Regions from separate parts of the Homo sapiens genome. Here region 2 is linked to region 1. Evidence: fine-mapped QTL for protein levels in blood plasma. A gene starts in region 1. The other region holds a variant in brackets. All regions are shown on one strand. Distances are between the middles of the regions.

Region 1 (3,011 bases):
ATTTTAATTTTTAACCCATTCCCCATCTTCCTTAGGCAATGTTCCACTAAGTAGGAGGAATAAGGGTGAGAAAGAGAGCTAGTCTTTTACCTAGAAGATTATAATTATGAGATATTTAAAATTCCAGCCAGGCGTGGTGGCTCACGCCTGTAATCCCAGCACTTTGGGAGGCTGAGGCAGGTGGATCACCTGATGTCAGGAGTTTGAGACCAGCCTGACCAACATGGCAAAACCCCATCTCTACTAAAAATACAAAAAAATTAGTCAGGCATGGTGGCAGGCACCTGTAATCCCAGCTACTCGGGAGGCTGAGGCAGGAGAATCGCTTGAACCCGGGAGGCAGAGGTTGCAGTGAGCCAAGATCGTGCCATTGTACTCCAACCTGGCGACAAGAGTGAAACTCTGTCTCAAAAAATAAATAAAATAAAATAAAATAAAATTCCATTATAATATACTATAGAGAAAAGCTAAATGCTAGCACAAAAATAGCAAGCATTTCTTGAATTTATTCAACCAATACTTAGTAAACACCTATTACATGCATAACAGCTCACTAAAGGTGTTGTGTATTAAATAGAATTCTGGTTAAGACAAGACCAATTGAGCATATACATTTATCTCTACTCTCTCAGGAAACTCCACAAAAATTATGGCAAAGATATAGAACCACAAGACAAAACAAATGGGAAGAGGCAACAGCAAATAAGAGATGTCAACAAATCTTTGGAAAAAGAGAAATGAATCAAGCCATAACTGAACTGGTAAAGATGAGAAAGCAGAAACCTAGAAATGCCTAATAAGGTTGCCAACAATAAGCAAACATAATTATGCCACGGAATCTCATACGGCTCAGGATTTGAGACACTAGGTAGGTAAAATCAACCCTCATTACTCACAGCTTCCTTATTTGTGAATTCACCTACTTGCTAGGAATTATTTGTAACCCCCCAAATCAATACTCACAATGTTTTGCGGACATTCACAGACACATGCCGTGGTGAAAAACTTGAGTTGCCTGATGCACATTCCCAGCTGAGGTGGAACAAGCTGACACTCTGCCTTCCTGTCTCAATTTTCATACTGCACACACATGTCTTTTCATGGTCTATTTAGTGCCATGCTGGTTATTACTATTTTTTTTTGCAATTTTTTGCCTTTTATGAGTGATTTTGCTGTTTCGAATGCCCCCCAAGCAGAGTGCTGGAGTGCTGTCTGGTGTTCCTAAGCAGAAGGAGGCTGTGCCTCATGGAGAAAATATGTGTGTTAAATAAGCTCTATTCAGGCATGAGTCATAGTACTGTTATTAGCCATGAGTTCAATGTTGATGAATCAACAATGTATATTAAATAAGGTGTCTTTAAACAGAAACACACACAAAACAAGGTTATGTATTGATTAGCTGACAAAAATGTTGTGACCAGAGGCTCACAGGCACCTAACTCTATATTTCCCCCACAGAGAATAATTCAGTATTTTCTTTTTTTCTTTTTTTTTTTCTTCTGAGACAGAGTTTCGCTCTTGTTGCTTAGGCTGGAGTGCAATTGCGCCATCTCAGCTCACCGCAACCTCCACCTCCCGGGTTGAAGTGATTCTCCTGCCTCAGGCCAGCCTCCCATGTAGCTGGGATTACAGGCATGCGCCACCAAGCCCAGCTGATTTTGTATTTTTAGTAGAGACGGGGTTTCTCCATGTTGTTCAGGCTGGTCTCAAACTCCTGACCTCAGGTGATCCACCTGCCTCGGCCTCCCAAAGTGCTGGGATTACAGGCATGAGCCACCACGCTCAGCAGTATTTTCTAATTCAGTGTTTGTGGCGATTTTATTGAACATAATTGCCAGGAATAATGAAGGAATAATGAGAATTGACTATACCTCTGAAACAAAAATCATAAGATTGGTTGAAAATCTGAAAAAGAAATAGACTACCTAATCCTAACCCCACAAAGCCAAATTCATTAAATTTCTCCCATCCCAACAGCAGATGGGGGGAAAAAACTTGAAAGAAAGGCAATGCAGAAAGCAGAATATTTTTTAAAAGAAATATTAGTTAAACCTTCATAGAAAATAAGAAAAAATGTTGTACCCACAAAATATGAATAGGATGCTATGATAAAGGCATAATTAGAGAACAAGAACTCTTGGAGATTCAAAATATGAGAGCTGAAGTCTAAAGACTAGAAAATAAAGTTGAGGAAATCTTCCAGAAGATAGAAGAAAAGACAAAGAGATGAAGAATAGCCAACATCTGACTACCAGCAGTACAGAAGCACAGAACAGAGGAATGGAGGGAAAGAAATAATGAGAGAAGTGATACAATAAAATTCCCAAGAATTGAGGAACATTTGTTTCCAGATTGAAAGGGCCCACTGTAAACAGCATAATAAATGAAAATAAATCTACACTGAAGTACAAAACAGTGAAGTTTCAGAATATCAAGAATAAACAGAAAAAAAATGTTTCCAGATAGGAAAAAAATAAGTCACATACAAAGGATCAAGGATGAGAATGGCTTTAGACTTAATAACAAAACCAGAAGTTAGAAAGCAATGGATCAATTCCTTTATAACTCTATTGGAAAATTATTTCTCACCTAGGATGCTCTACCCATCCAAATGATCCATCAGAAAGAAAGGTAAAACAACGTTCTTGAAACTGCATTTTCCAACATGCCAAGTTTCAAGAACTTTATCTCCCATGTGACCATTTTCGAGATGTTATTGAAAAAAGTGACTACAAAAACAAGAGCATAAGCCAAAACAAAAAGGAAAAATGGGCTCCCAAAAACAGCAAATTTCAAATAGAAGAGAGAGAATTCCAAGAATGGTGGCCAAGGGAGATCCCAAGATGATAAGAGTACAACAGGCTTGGAGAGCAACTAGCCCAAGTGAGTGGCAGACGCCAGGCTCAAGGAGGGATATTTCCAATGAAAAAATACATGGAGGGGACCCAATGGATCTGACAGATGTTGAAACTTGAAAAGTTTTGCAGCACTCTTAGAAAGTTTGGAGAAGG
Region 2 (2,500 bases), 64 kb before region 1:
AGAAAAAGGGACATCCCAAGTGGTCATTTAGGAGTCACATATGACATAGCCAAAAACTCGTTAGGCTTGGGACAGCAAATGCCCATCTCTGGAACAGCCCCCACCTTCCTCCCAGGCCCAGAAGTGGTAGCCAACCCTCTCTGCATGCCCTTCCACAGAGCTTGGAAGGAGTGGCACATTTCCTGAGAAACAGTGCCCTGGATTCAAACAATTTTTAAAATTTATTTATTTATATGTATATAATTTTTTTTTTTTTGAGACAGGGTCTCACTCCCGTTGCCCAGGCTGGAGTACAGTAGCATGATCACCACTCACTGCAGCCTCAACTTCTCAGCCTCAGGTAATTCTTCCCC[C/G]TCAGCTTCCTGAGTAGCAGGGGCTACAGATGCACACCACCATACCTGGCTACTTTTTAATTTTTTGTAGAGATGGGGTTTTGTCATGTTACCCAGGCTGGTCTTAAACTCCTGAGCTCAAGCAATCCCCCCTGCCTTGGCCTCCCAAAATGCTGGGATTATAGGCATGAGCCGCTGTACCCAGCCAATTCAAACAATTTCTTCTGCTAGAGTGTGCAAGGCTATTTTCCACACAATCCCATGTTCACAAAACCCCAGTTAAGATGGAAGAACTAAAATTAGAACTCTTAGGGATGGAAAAACCACATCATAGAGACAGACTTGTTCAACCTCACCAGAAAATCAGAAGTGGCCTCATGGCAGGGACAGTGACTTTGTCATTTGTATCCCTAGGGCCTAGCCCAGCACCTGGCATGTAGTGAGTGATTAATAAGTGCCGGCTCTAGAGGTCCAACCTACGGATTATTCAAAAAGCATGTTAGTTATCAGAGAGCACTGCCTATGAATCCATTTACTCTCTAAATGACATTTAATAAGCAGGAAAGTAAATGGGGGTATAAATCAGTCCAGTATACCGGACTGATAAGAGGAGGAAACAGAAAGAAAGCCCATTATAACAAAAGGCCCATGCTCAAAAAAGACTTCTGAGTGGGAACGAGGACTAATATTTAAAATTTGTGCATCAAGGAAAAACTGGAAACAGCCTTTCAGTAACAAGGATTTAAAGGTTATATTTGATTGGGCTTGTTTCTACGTAAGCAAGAAATTAAACCTTAAAATTTCCCTAACGGTTTTCCACTTAAAAATTTATGCAAATGGAGGGTTTCTAGTTAAGGAATACTCACTAGAAAACCCCAATGCCAGTTAAATAAAGCCTGACTCTGACGTCCCCAGCCTGAGAAAAACAACCTGAGGCAGCCTCAGACTGCCATGCCCATCAACATTCCCTGGTGATATTTAGACAGTCTTTAGATTAATGTGCTCTTGGCTGCTTTGTAAATGGCTTCAAATCCTATAGCCAAGGCTCCTCTCTCTCTAATTAGCCCATCAGGTCAGGAAGGGTAGGGCCAGTGTCTTTATTCTGCAGCATCCTTTATGGGACCAGTTCCACCTGGGAACGCACTGGGTCCTCATGAGCCTGGTGAAGCCCTTTCCCCTTGTCAAAGCATGAAGTCAAAGTCATTCCAGGAAGGCTGAGTCCATCTGCCCTGCCTGCCATTCCCTGAGACTTTTCAACTCCAGTTCTCTTGATGTGAACCTTGAAAAAAGCTCAGCCTAGGACTCTTTCCCCATCTCCATTCACCTCGTCTACCTCCCACGGCAATGATTTCCTTAATAAAAACAGGAGAGTTTACCTTGAAATCATCTCCATGCCATGTGGCTATACTACTTTCAGCAGGGTTGGGAACGGTGGGCCAACACAGATGAGTCAATTTGCTAATGAGAGAGAAGATTTTAAGATGGGAATTGAATCCAAGAAGCATTAGCACCATATGGCTGAGTCAAAAGAGTGAGGCTGTGCTAAAGGGAATTGTAAGTTTCCCTCCTAAATAAGGGCATGTCTGCCTAATAGAACCTGGGAAAGTGGAGTTGTTTTGCGGTGTGTGTTGGGGGGTGACATTGCAAGTTCTCTGTGGGATGTGATCAAAGGAGACTCTCCCCATACAAAGCCTATCTTCCCCTCTCTCCCATCCCAGCATCTCCATACCTGGTCCCAATGCTGTAAATTGCACCATCACAGAGTCATTCCTTTGAGGCTTATCCTCTGGGAAAGACAACATTTTATAAACCTTATAAGCTACCCATACTTTCCTGCAATGGTTCTCCAAGTGTGGTCCCAACCAGCAGCATTGGGATCACCTGGGAACTTGTTAGAAATGAACATTTTGGGGCTTTACCCTAGAACCACTGAATCAGAAACTTTGGGGGTGAGGCCTGATTCTGATGCATGCTAAGATCAAAATGATTACTTAAGTGCATAATGTACAAGAATCTATGCTGGTGGCTTGGTTATTACCTACAGTTGGTAACGGAGGTTGATATTAGCTTGACCATTAACTAAGTGCAGCTGCTTGACAGAGATGACTCACAACTGTCTAATTTGGAGAGACAGCTCAACCAGGGGAGGACCATTAGGGTGCCATAAG

Which allele goes with the higher level. Alleles are on the strand shown, and positions count from the first base shown. The strength of an association depends on the size of the effect and on how common the allele is.
With allele C in place of G in region 2, the plasma level of the protein whose gene starts at base 1,240 in region 1 is lower (weak association).

What was found. PIP is the chance, under the fine-mapping model, that this variant and not a neighbour inherited with it causes the effect. The UK Biobank Pharma Proteomics Project read protein levels with antibody pairs (Olink). The fine-mapping took linkage between variants from a reference panel, not from the people measured, so its PIPs are less certain.
Region 2: its variant is fine-mapped to the plasma level of the IL31RA protein (UK Biobank, PIP 0.98).

The regions. Positions count from the first base shown.
Region 1 is chr5:55,849,586-55,852,596 of GRCh38, reverse strand. IL31RA (interleukin 31 receptor A) reads right to left here and starts at 1,240. Exons shown (of 15, transcript NM_139017.7): 1 at 964-1,240. The coding sequence starts at 1,026.
Region 2 is chr5:55,914,137-55,916,636 of GRCh38, reverse strand. IL31RA (interleukin 31 receptor A) reads right to left here. Exons shown (of 15, transcript NM_139017.7): 14 at 1,709-1,790. Among named protein-coding and RNA genes, the nearest start is that of IL31RA, 64 kb to the right of the region's middle. The variant C/G (reference allele first, on the strand shown) is at 354.